Linked DNA regions of Homo sapiens: region 1 is linked to region 2. Evidence: fine-mapped expression QTL. A gene starts in region 2. The other region holds a variant in brackets. All regions are shown on one strand. Distances are between the middles of the regions.

Evidence for each region. PIP is the estimated chance that this variant, and not a neighbour inherited with it, causes the effect.
Region 1: its variant is fine-mapped to the expression of KLHL29 in whole blood (TOPMed, PIP above 0.99).

The regions. Positions count from the first base shown.
Region 1 is chr2:23,529,644-23,535,009 of GRCh38, reverse strand. The region is part of intron 2 of KLHL29 (kelch like family member 29); the gene reads right to left. It overlaps LOC105374325 (a long non-coding RNA gene), which reads left to right and starts at 4,702. Exons shown (of 2, transcript XR_939831.2): 1 at 4,702-5,366. RefSeq lists an enhancer at 1,957-2,016. The variant A/G (reference allele first, on the strand shown) is at 2,158.
Region 2 is chr2:23,381,925-23,387,290 of GRCh38, reverse strand. It overlaps KLHL29 (kelch like family member 29), which reads right to left and starts at 2,112. Exons shown (of 14, transcript NM_052920.2): 1 at 1,511-2,112. It overlaps LINC02923 (long intergenic non-protein coding RNA 2923), which reads left to right. Exons shown (of 6, transcript NR_187213.1): 1 at 1-5,366. RefSeq lists silencers at 226-275, 446-615, 636-755, 996-1,855, 2,026-2,375 and 1 more and an enhancer at 3,879-4,173.

The DNA of each region.
Region 1 (5,366 bases), 150 kb before region 2:
CACCCCAATCATGATACAGACCATTTCCATCAGCCCAGAAAGTTCCTTTGTGCCAGACGCATTTTAGCAGCTGCTTTTAGGGCCAGTCGATACTGCTGCAGCATCAACAGGATTAGGGGATCCAAAAAGCCTGCAGGGGGTTCTAGGCTGTGAAATCCAAGATGCCCTCAGCTCTAAGTGACCAGAAAAGGCACTGTTTTTTCTTTCTAATTCTGCAGTTGACTAGTCACCCACAGTAGTCTGTCAAGGGAAGTTTTGAAGCACTGGAGCCTCAAAGAGACTGTGGGACCTCAGCTTCACTCAACAACTCAAAACACATCCACTCTATGAGCCTCTGTGCCATACACAGAGCTGGGCCCTGCTGTGGCAGGAAAGGGGCAGCTCAGTGTAGCTGGAGAGACACTGAGCAGAAGAGAAGGAAGACGGGAACTTGGGCTGGAACAGAAGTTAGCATCTGTGATGCTGCAAAGAAATAAGTCATTCTGGCTAAGGCCAAACAGGAAGGCTTCTCGGAGGTGGGGGCATTCATAGTAGCCTCTGAAAGGACGCAAAGGATTTCAATAGAAAACAATAAAGAGAGGAAAATTCCACGCTGGGAAGACATAATGTGTCAACAAAGGCATTGAGACATAATAACCATCACTTATTAAATGCCTGTTAAGGAACAGGCATTGGGCTAGGTGTTGCACAAATGTGATTTTATCTAATAAAAATAACAATGATGAGAAGGACCCTACAAGGTAAGTCATACTAACTGCAATGTGGCCAAGTGACTTCCCAGGTTCACAAAGCATTGTACCTGGATTCAACACCAGGTCTCATGATCTGAAGCCCCGGTTGTCCTGTTTCCTGTGCTGTGGGAAGAAACACGATAAAATGGGTGCTGCTCAGCGGGATGTCAGACAGGAATCCCTGGTTGCTTGGAAAGGCATCCCCGAAACCGGGGACTTTCAACTATTGGCGGGTCCTTACTTGGTTCAAATATCAATTAAAATATCAGGAGGACTATTACATACCCCAAAAAGAGCTGTGGAAACACCTCATAGCGCACACGTTTCTTTAAAAAAAAAAAAACAACAGACACCATAGGAAAGTCTCATGTATTTAAAATAAAGGGAGTTAATTAGTAAATTTGTTTTTTCTGAAAGCAGTCTTATTGATACAAAATAGCCCAAACCGGGTTCACAAAGGTTGAAAACAGAGTTAGCTTATAATTAGCATTTCAACTGTCCACAAGCGGATCTTCTAGATTGTCAGCACAAGGAAATTCTGTTCTCTTCATTGGCGTAAATGCCCCAATTCTTATTTACACTGTTAGTCCCGGGAGAGTGGGGGGTCCTCACACTGTTACAAATGCCATCACCCAGCCCAAACGCCGCACCCCATCTGCAGCTGCCAGGGAAGGAGCTTTCAGGGAGCTCCCAGGTCTCCCAGCTTTGATCTGCGAGCCAGCGCCAAGGCTCCCCAGAGGCTGCACAGAGCTGCATCTACGACCCAGGGCTCCTTGTTTTGCATCAGCTGCTTCACTCCCGGCAGAGGCTCACGTTTTCTCTGACGCCAAATGCCATGAATCCTGCTGGGCCAGGAGCTACAAGTCTCCACAGGACCCCTCCCTGCTTAGACCATCCCAGCTTTCTTTCCAAAGGGGGTAGAATGCCAGCCCCAGAGGGTGGGGGAACTCTCAGAAAAATACTTCCCTGGATGCAAGAGTCCGCATCAAACCCATGCCCTAGGACTAGCCCACAAGCAGCCACATCAGAAGGCACTGCTTACTTGTGCACACACAGATCTGCACACACTCACACATACGCATGGTTTCTCTGCTGCCTTTGACCCCCAGGCCTGCCGTATGTGTACACCTTTTCCTCCCCCAATATCTCCAAACCACTTTACGTGCTCAGGAAAAACTGAGAGACGCTCTCACACAGGGAAGCCACTGGTTGGCAGAAAATCCCTTGAACTCGTCAAAGACCAGGCCAGGCAGCACCTTCTGCTCCTCAGCTTGGGGGCCTGTGAGTTGCAGAGACGTAGAGGGAACCCTCCCCTCGGCCCCCAGGCTTTCTCACCGCCAGCTGAGCTCCTCCTCTCGGCCCACGTGCACACACAGCTGTGGGGCTGTCTCCCTTCTCAACAAAAGTTCGTCTCTCTCCAGTTGGT[A/G]GCCTGGAGCCGGGCCAATCCTCCCCTTACCCTGAACGCGCCTCGATTTGCAGAGGCCTGTGGCGAACAGTCTCCCTGCCCTGATCCTTCTCCCCGTGCAGAGGGTGTAGTGGGTGAGGCTGGGAACACACCTCCTCCCACCTGACACCCACCCCCATGCTGACCCCAAACCACAGGCCTCTAGTGAGCTCCCCACCGCCCAGGCCTCAGTCCCAAGTTAAGATAATCTTACAATCTTGTCACTCCAGTGGTGCATTCTTGAAGGAAGTGTTTTAGCTTCAAAGGAAAGTGAAAGTGAGATTTTAACATAGGAGCAAGAAAAAGTCTAACCTTGGCGATGCACATCCCACAAAGCTCCACTAGCAGGGGCCTGGGTGCCGCCCTGGGTGCTGCCCTGGGTGCAGAGGGTGCGTGGGCTCCCCATTCCCTTCACCAGCTCCCACCGTCTCCATTCTGCTTCAAGCCAAGCACACTGCAAACCAGAGTACTTTTTCTCCTTGCCAGTGAGCCGGTGTTGTCTATGTACTGCAGGAGGAGGCCATTACAGGGAGTTAATAGAGTTTTAAATTTGTTTTTAAATTTTACAATGCACTTCATCAAATTCAGTGTCTGAGCACAGCATCATGTTCAGACCAGGCAGCACATGTCAAATGGCCTCAGCCTTCCCCTCCACCCCTCTCCCACCAGGAAAGGTTAACTCTTTGGAGTAACTCCCAGGCATGGCCCCAGTGGAGCGGGTTCTGGTCTGTGGGGGGTCGTTGTGGAATAGGCCCAGTGGAAAGGCTGCTGACTTATTTGAGATGCTCTGGGCAGCTTCCATGGTCAAGGGCCGTCGAGGCTTCCACTGGGCCTTGGTCGTCCCGTTGAGGTCCCTTACTGAGGTGGCACTTGGGAGTCGTGGCGACTTGGTTCTTTCAGGTTCACATCTCTATGGTCCCAGGTGTCAAAGAGGGTGAGAAAGTATCCAGGGCACAGACGTGGAAAGCAAATAGTATAGTGCAGTCTGCTGATGAGGAACAGATGGGAGCACATTTCTGCTATTTTTCACCCAGAAGGATTTCCTTTAAGGACATGTTCAGCTGAACCTAGGATCATTATTGTAACTTGGGATCAGTTGCTGCGGAATTGGAAATAAGTGAGATTTATGGGCCCACGGTTTTGTGAAGAGCGTCTTGGGTACCAGGACTTGCGGCAGGTCTTCTCTGTCACTAACTGCAGTCAATCTGGCCTTTTATTAAGCTTTAATAAGTGACTCTGGTTCTAGGGAAAGTTCCGGAATAGATATTACTGGCAAGTGAAATCCCGTTGGTCCCAGGGCAGACTGCAATAAAGCAGCTCCGTCCTGGCGGCTCGGAGGCAGGGTCTCAGCTCACTGAGGCCACAGAGCCCCACGAGGGAGGCGGAGGGTCCCCTTGCCAGAGCAATCTGGTAGTGGGTGGGTGGGGGATGGAACTGATGGGGACGGTCGCCTGTTCTTCTCCCTTGAGCATCACAAAACTGAGCCTCACCCCCCAAATAGGTCCCATGTTGGCAGTGGTCTGCTTTTGAAACGTCCCAGGCAACAAGAACCCAACATGCCTGTTTTTGGTTAATGGAACCCACAGGGTGGCTGCACCCTGGTCCCAGCTGTCTGGCCACCACGTGGCAATGACTTTCGCTCACTATTTATTTGAAACTTGTCTGTACAGGTGACGAGGAGGAGACAGGCTTCTCAGCCAGGCTTCTGCCGAGTCCCAGATACAGTCCCAGCTTACCCCCTCTACCTCACTGTGCATCCAGGTGTCAACCTGAACTTTGCACTTCTTAAAACAAACATCCTACAGATAGAAAACGAACCCTTCTGTGAGGCCACACACCCAGTTAAACACCCCACCCTACTTTTCAACTCTGGGGAGACTCTGCCCATGTCTGCATCCTTCCAGACAGAGCTCTGTGCTCTGTGTATGGCTTCAGGTTTTCCATTTCTAAGTTCATACAGACACAAAGCTGGTGGGATGGGGCAAGAACCCTTGGTGGCCTCCACTCTCCTGAGCAGATTCAGAAGCAGATGCTAAGAACTGGGCCCAGGAGGGATGTGGGAGCTGGGGTGGAGCTGGGCTTGGCAGCTGGGCGGGGGCAGGGGATGGGCTGGGATGGAGGGAAGAGCATCTTGAGGTGATGGGAGTCTTTTTGCATTCAAGGGCTTGCTGGCTTCCAACTTGCTACTTACTGCATTGAAAAATATTCCACACGATGGAAGAACTATTTTCCAAAACAAAATGCTAGTATTCATCAGGAGGCGCGGGTTGTGCAGTGTGAACAATTCACTTTCGTTAAGTACCATATGGCCGCTGGTAGGAAAACGCTAACATGTTTCAACAGTACAGCTGGGGGAGGGCTCCTTTATTCACCGTGCAGATGGCTCTAATTGACATCTCTCCTAAAACAGGTCTCCAGCATTTCTGCAGGATCATTAGAGTAATTAGTTATTAAATACCATCACCACTTTTAGAGAGGGGGTCTGATCCTTGGCAACATTCCAGCGTGATGGAACTGACAGGTTGGGAGGACAAGCCGTGGGAGGGCCCATGGAAAGGGCTTACGAGCTCCTCCTCTTCAATGGCAAGGCCAGAAGAGGATAAAGACTTCGCTGATTCCAGAACAGCCTCCTGGAGAGAACTCAGGCACCCAGAGGGCTCTACGCCACAGTACTAGAGCCAGCCCTGCCTCTTTGGCAGTGTGACTGTGTACACCCCTCAACCACCCAGCCTCAATTTATTTATCCCTTAAATGGGGGTAATAGCAACTGCCCTTCCAGCCCTGCAGAACTGAAGCCACATATTGAAGAGCACATGGAAAGAGCCGGACTGAAGTGCCGCAGCTGAGCCGGTCCTGATGGCTGTGTTTGACACCTAGCTTGATCCATGCTCACCACTTTGGTGAGTGACAAGCCGTGGCCTCTCAGGACATGGGCACACCTGAGACTCAGTCCTCGATACTGCAACGGGCAAGCCTTTGTCATGCTGCGACCAGAGCTCAGTCTGCAAATGCGGCCCCCCAGGCTGTCTCAGGACGGGTGGCGGGCTCAGCCCTGCCTCCATGAACCCCAGAGCCAGCCCGCAGGTGGAGGCTGGTCTAAGCTAGGTCCTGTTTCTGTACTAGACCTATTATACTCTACTCCCCAAACCAGCCCTTGAAAACAGCCCTCACACCTGCCCTCACTCGCCTCT
Region 2 (5,366 bases):
CGTTGCTGGACTGGAGAGAGGCTGGAACCTGCAGCAGCGGGCCGGGATGCCGCTGAGCTGCCGAAGTGGAAGTTTCGCAGGCAGCAGCAGCTCGGCGTCCTCCACGGTCTGGTCCCTCCAGCGCCGAGGTCTCGCCTAATGCTACATAAATACCTGCGTCCACGATTCGCCCGGGGCGCGCCGCGGCGCAAGCACGGGAGGGAGGGAGGAGAACGTTTGCAGAGCGGCGGGGATGGCAGCGGCGGCGGCGGCAGCTCCTTACCCATCAGCATCTCTGGGGGCCCGCGCGAGGGCCCGCCAACGGACCGCGTCTGCCGCTTGGTTCCACAGCCCAGGGACGACAACTGGCTTCTCAGCGGGTGGACCCAGGCATCCGAGACTCGCGCGTGGCCGCCACCCCCTCCTCCGAGACGGCTGGCCGCAGGCAGGCAGCGCGTCCCCGCCTTCCCCAGGCAACGCAGAGGCGACCTGCCCTAAGAGCCACCTCCGACCTACCCCGGCTCCCAGCCCCGCGCTCCGGCCCCAGGCGAGCACGTCCCTCCCTTGGGGCCCGGGGCCGACGCTGCCCAGCGCGGGCACCCGCGCGGCGACCGCAGATAACCCTAGCGCTCTCAGCCCGCTCCAGGCCACGGAGACCGGGACGCGAGCCCTGGGCTCCCCCGGCCCCCCGAGGCCATCGGGGCGCGCGTTCACACTCCCACACTACACATCTCCAGGTCCACCCTGTCCCACACATCAACAACCCCTCCCCAACGACACCACCTCCTGGCCGCTTCGCCGTCCCCGTGAGCTCTCCTTTCCGCGTCCCCCCACAACACGCTGGCACCCACAAGGTGTCAAGGGAAGTGTGCGTGTGTGTGTCGGGGTGGGGTGGGTCACAATAAGGTCTGTGCGGGTTCCCTCCCGACGGTTTTCGAGCTCATCTACCTCGAAAGTTACTTGGGATTGAGTAAAGAGACCCAGTCCCCAAATGCGAGATCAGAGGACGCGAGGGGCAGAAAACCCCAACCTGGCTTCTCGCTGCACAGAGGCGCGCACCTCCCCAAAGGACAGTGCGCGCGGCCGCCCCTGGGGGCCAGCCCTCCGTCGCCTCCAGGTCTCCTGCCCGGCCGGGGCCCTGGGCCGCTCAGGGGAACGTGGCCTGGAGAGGGGCGCGCGCCGCCGGGCCCAGCAGGGGGGCTGCTCCGGCCAGGGGTCACACAAGCCTCCAGCACCTCCGAACACCGTGACAGTGGCCCCAGGCAGCCCCGGTGCATACACACCCGGGGGCAGGAAGTTTTTTCCCCCCCTTTTTTTCCCCCTGGAGCAGCGCAGGCGCAAGGGCTCCTGCAGCCTGCGAGTCCAGACGCGGGAGGCTCCTGTCGCCGCCGCCGCCGCCGAAGCCGAGCCCAGGGTTCCGGGTTCCGGCCCCGCTCCCACGCCCGGCCCGGCCCGGCCCCACGCGGCGGCCAGGACCTGGGTCTCCCTCCGGCGCCGCATCCGAGGCGCTCCAGCCCGGCCCGGCTCTTACCTCCGGCGCGCGGCTCCGGCCCCGGCCCGACGCGCAGAGAGCCCGGGGTCGCGGGTGGGCGCAGGAGGGCTGATGGAGAGCGGACAGCGCCGGCGGGTAGCGGTGGCTGGGGCCGCTCGGGTCCTGGCCGGAGGAAACGGATCCAGGTCCTCCTCCTCGCGTTCCTGCTCTCCGCCTTCTCCCCTCGTTCCTCCTCCTCCTCCGCCGCCGCCGCCTCCCGGCAGCCCAGGGAGGATGCCCGGGAGAGGGAAGTCGGTCCTCCTGCCTGTCAGCCTGTGCGGCTATGAGCGGTGCGGCGCGGCTCTCATCGAGGCGGCGGCGGCGGCGGCGGCTCCGGCAGCATCGCCCCCGCCCTCTCCCCGCAGCCGCGGCGGCCGCGGGGCTGGGGCTGGCTCCGGGCTCGCGGCTCGGGCTCCGGGCGGGGGCTGCGCTCAAGCGCGGCGACCGCCGGGGCTGCGGACGGGCGCTGCGGAGCCGGGGCCGGGGCTGGAGCTGCGGCGAGATCCGCGGTGGCGGGGACGGCGGCGGCGGCGCGGGGGCTGGCGCGGCCGCGGCGCGGGGACCATGCTCCCTTCTGGCTCGCTCCGCTCCGGGTACCGTCTGCTTTAGCTGCGAGGGAGGCGGGCTTCGGCGCGCAGCCAGGGGCGGGCGGAGCCAATCACGGGCGCCCGAGTGGGCGGGGGTGGCGGGTGGGGGAGGCGGGGCCCTCTGGCCCGGCCCGGCCAGGCCGGGCCCCGTGCGCAGTTTCCCCGGCCCGAGGGATTCCCGGCTGCCGCGCGCCGGGTCCGAGGTTGGAGTGCTCGCGGGTGTGTCCGTCGGTCCGTCCGTCCGCCGCCCCCGCCCCCCGCGGTGGCCCCCGGCTCGCCTGGCTCCGCGGCCGCGCCCGGCAGACGCACGGCGCGTGGCACGGGCTGCTCCGCCGTGGCCTCCTGGCCTTGCTGGCCCAGGGTTGGGGGCCCGGGACTGAGGCGAGCTCCCCGTCTGCTCTCAACACCTGAGGAAACTGGCGGAAAAGTTTGAGAAGGAAAAAGTCCAATCGTCTTTCAGCTTCCGCCCTCTTTATGACACTCCAGCCTTGGAAAGGAGCAGGAATTGTCCACACCTCTGAAGGACCAGGGAGAGCCCTGCAAAGTGTCCACCAGCCTTCTGAGTCAGCCCTGCCTCTCCTGGGGCGCGCGACTTTTCTGTTCATACTGACCCTTAGGAATCCAGGAAGCCTTCTCTGTTTAACAGCCTGACCAGCCTTTGATGTCTATACCGACTACTCACCCCCACCACAGCTCGCTCTCTCTCACACTGTCTACACTGACTTCTCAGTCCCACCACCTCTCGGTCTACACATGCTGTCTACACAGACCCTAACTTCTAACCCTAATAGAAGAGATTTGGCCAGAGGCGTGTGGGACCCCCAATGAGGGCTTTTCCATTATGCTAGAATATTTCACTCTGGGCACAGTCTTCTCCACCCCGACCGCTCTCCTAATCTGGTTTTTATTCCCCGACCTCTCCCTCCTCCCCTACATCCCCTTTACCTGGTTTTGAGTTTCAGAGGAAATATCTGTACCTGCCCTCCTCCTCCACCCCTGTCTGAATGTAAAGGCCTGAGGGCCCAATCCTCATCCTCCACCCTCCCTCCGCTCCCCCGGGTAAAGGCCTGAGGCCTGAGGCCTTGCTAGAAATTGGAGTTGGGGTGCTGTAGGTAGTGTGGGGAGCTGGCTGTGGGGGCCCAGCTGGGAGGAGCTGGCCTGGGGAGGGCTTTGCCAGTCCTTGCCTCCATCTACCAGGGCCAAGGAGGACTGAGCCGGTAAATATTTTCTTCTCAGCTCCCCCCCTGTGATGTCTGATCCAGGCCTCTGCTCTCCTTGGCTGTAAACTCAGCGCACGGATTGTGTCTTCTTTAATATTTTGTAGGAAGCAGAGTACAGTGTCGTGGCTGATAAATAATAAATAATAATAATCTACTGAGGGTAGCAGGAGCACTGTCAGAAATGGAATGAGGACGCCGGGGAAATGGCCCACTAGTGTCAGAATAACTGCATTTCCTGGAAAAAACATCCAACAGAGTTTGTGTGTGTGAAGCCCGGGACTCAAGGGAGGGGACAGAGCGGAGCACTTCAGGGAGGAAGCCACCCTTCATGAGGACGACAGCCAGGAAAACTGGCGTGACCTTAAGAGAGGGTGACAGAGGTGCCGAAAAGGGGAGCAGGAGTGGGGGGGAGGGGGAGAAAAGCTCCCCAAGGGTCCTCAGACAACACCTGAAGGTGATCGATAGCTTTGGTTTGAGTACTATGTCCTTCAAATGGTATATGAAAAGTGATAGAAGAGTACTAGATAGCAAAATGGAAAAAAGAGGGATTTCTTGGGATTTCAAATTGATACACAGGTCAACCCAATGCAAAAAGAAGGAGAACAAAGCCACAGGCGTGTGTCTGTTCATCCACGCTGTAGGAAGCTGTCCTCTGAGATAATCTCCATGGATGCACTGACTGTGAACATGCAGAAGTCCACCCAGCCGTATTCTGGAGTAGCGCCCTATGTGACAGCTGTAGGCACTACAGAAATGTGGCCAAGGTTTGCAGGGTCTGGGATAGGTTAAGATCTGGCAATGTGAGGCACTCACAGTGTCTTACAGATGATTTTGAATGATCCTCAGTTGAAAGAAGAAAATAGGAACTCCAAGAATCCTTATTCAGCTACCTCTCCAGATGAAGGAGAAAGGATGCTCCCAATTTCCCTGCTGGCAGCATCAGAAAAGAGAGCTGTGCTGAGGTCTTATCCAGAGGAGGACCTACTCGGGCCATGGTGGTGCGAAGGGCGCTGGTTCTGGGGCACCGCAAACTCTTCAGGGCTGAAGTTTGGTAACAGCTCACCAGGGGAGCCAGCTTGTCAGGGAGAATGAGAAAAGCTGTGTGAATTAGACTCCCAGTGGGCTTGTCTACCCTGTCCTCACCCATCCTCGTTTTATCCAAGGCTTCCTCGTCATTGATGCTCTGCCCTGCTGGGAGCTGTTTAGTGTGGACACAGCCATTTATGAAGGGTCTGCGCTGGTCTGCATATGAGTTCCATTTCAGAGTGCTGTTGTTCACATGATCTGTCCCAGCGCATCTAGTGTCTTGGCAACATAAACTGGATTTGCATTGTGTCAGGGGTCTCCTCTCTCTCTCTCTCTACGTAGATCTTGCTGGTGTCTGGGATCTTTTTTGGGTCATTCTTTGCTCTACTCTGTGGCCCATGGGATGGGCCCCATGACTGGCATGGATCTCTCTGTGTGGTTCATGGGACTCGTGTGTTGTGCCCAGAAACCTCTTACACCATGGTCAAAGATTTCTCCATGAAACACAGGATTGACTTGGTGGTGTGTTCTCCAAAAGCCAACCCTCCCTGTCCTGAGCCCCAATCTGGGCACTGGGATCAGGACTAATGTGTACACTCCAAGCAGATGGGTAGTGAAGGAGCGGACTCATAGTGCATAGGGAAGTGGACTGGAACACTCCAGGACATCCATTCCCCGCTCAGATCATAGACCATTATCTGTGCAGTCAATCAGACAAGGACTTGTACTGGAAAGGCCACCATCACCCAAGGAGGAACCAGAGGAAGTCACATCAGGAACACCTGGGGTGCCACATAAACCCACAGTGGCCAAGGTGGACTTCTGTCCTTGTCTGTGTTTATGATAATAGCCACAACAAAAGGACCTTTACCCAGTGGCTACTATATGTCAGGCACTGTACCAAGAACTCTACCCATGATATCTTGTTAATCCTCACAGCAACCTGTGGAATTGGTGTTATCAGCCCCCAAAACTGAGTTCCAGAGAGGGTAGATGAGAACCTGCAATCACACAGTAAGTGAC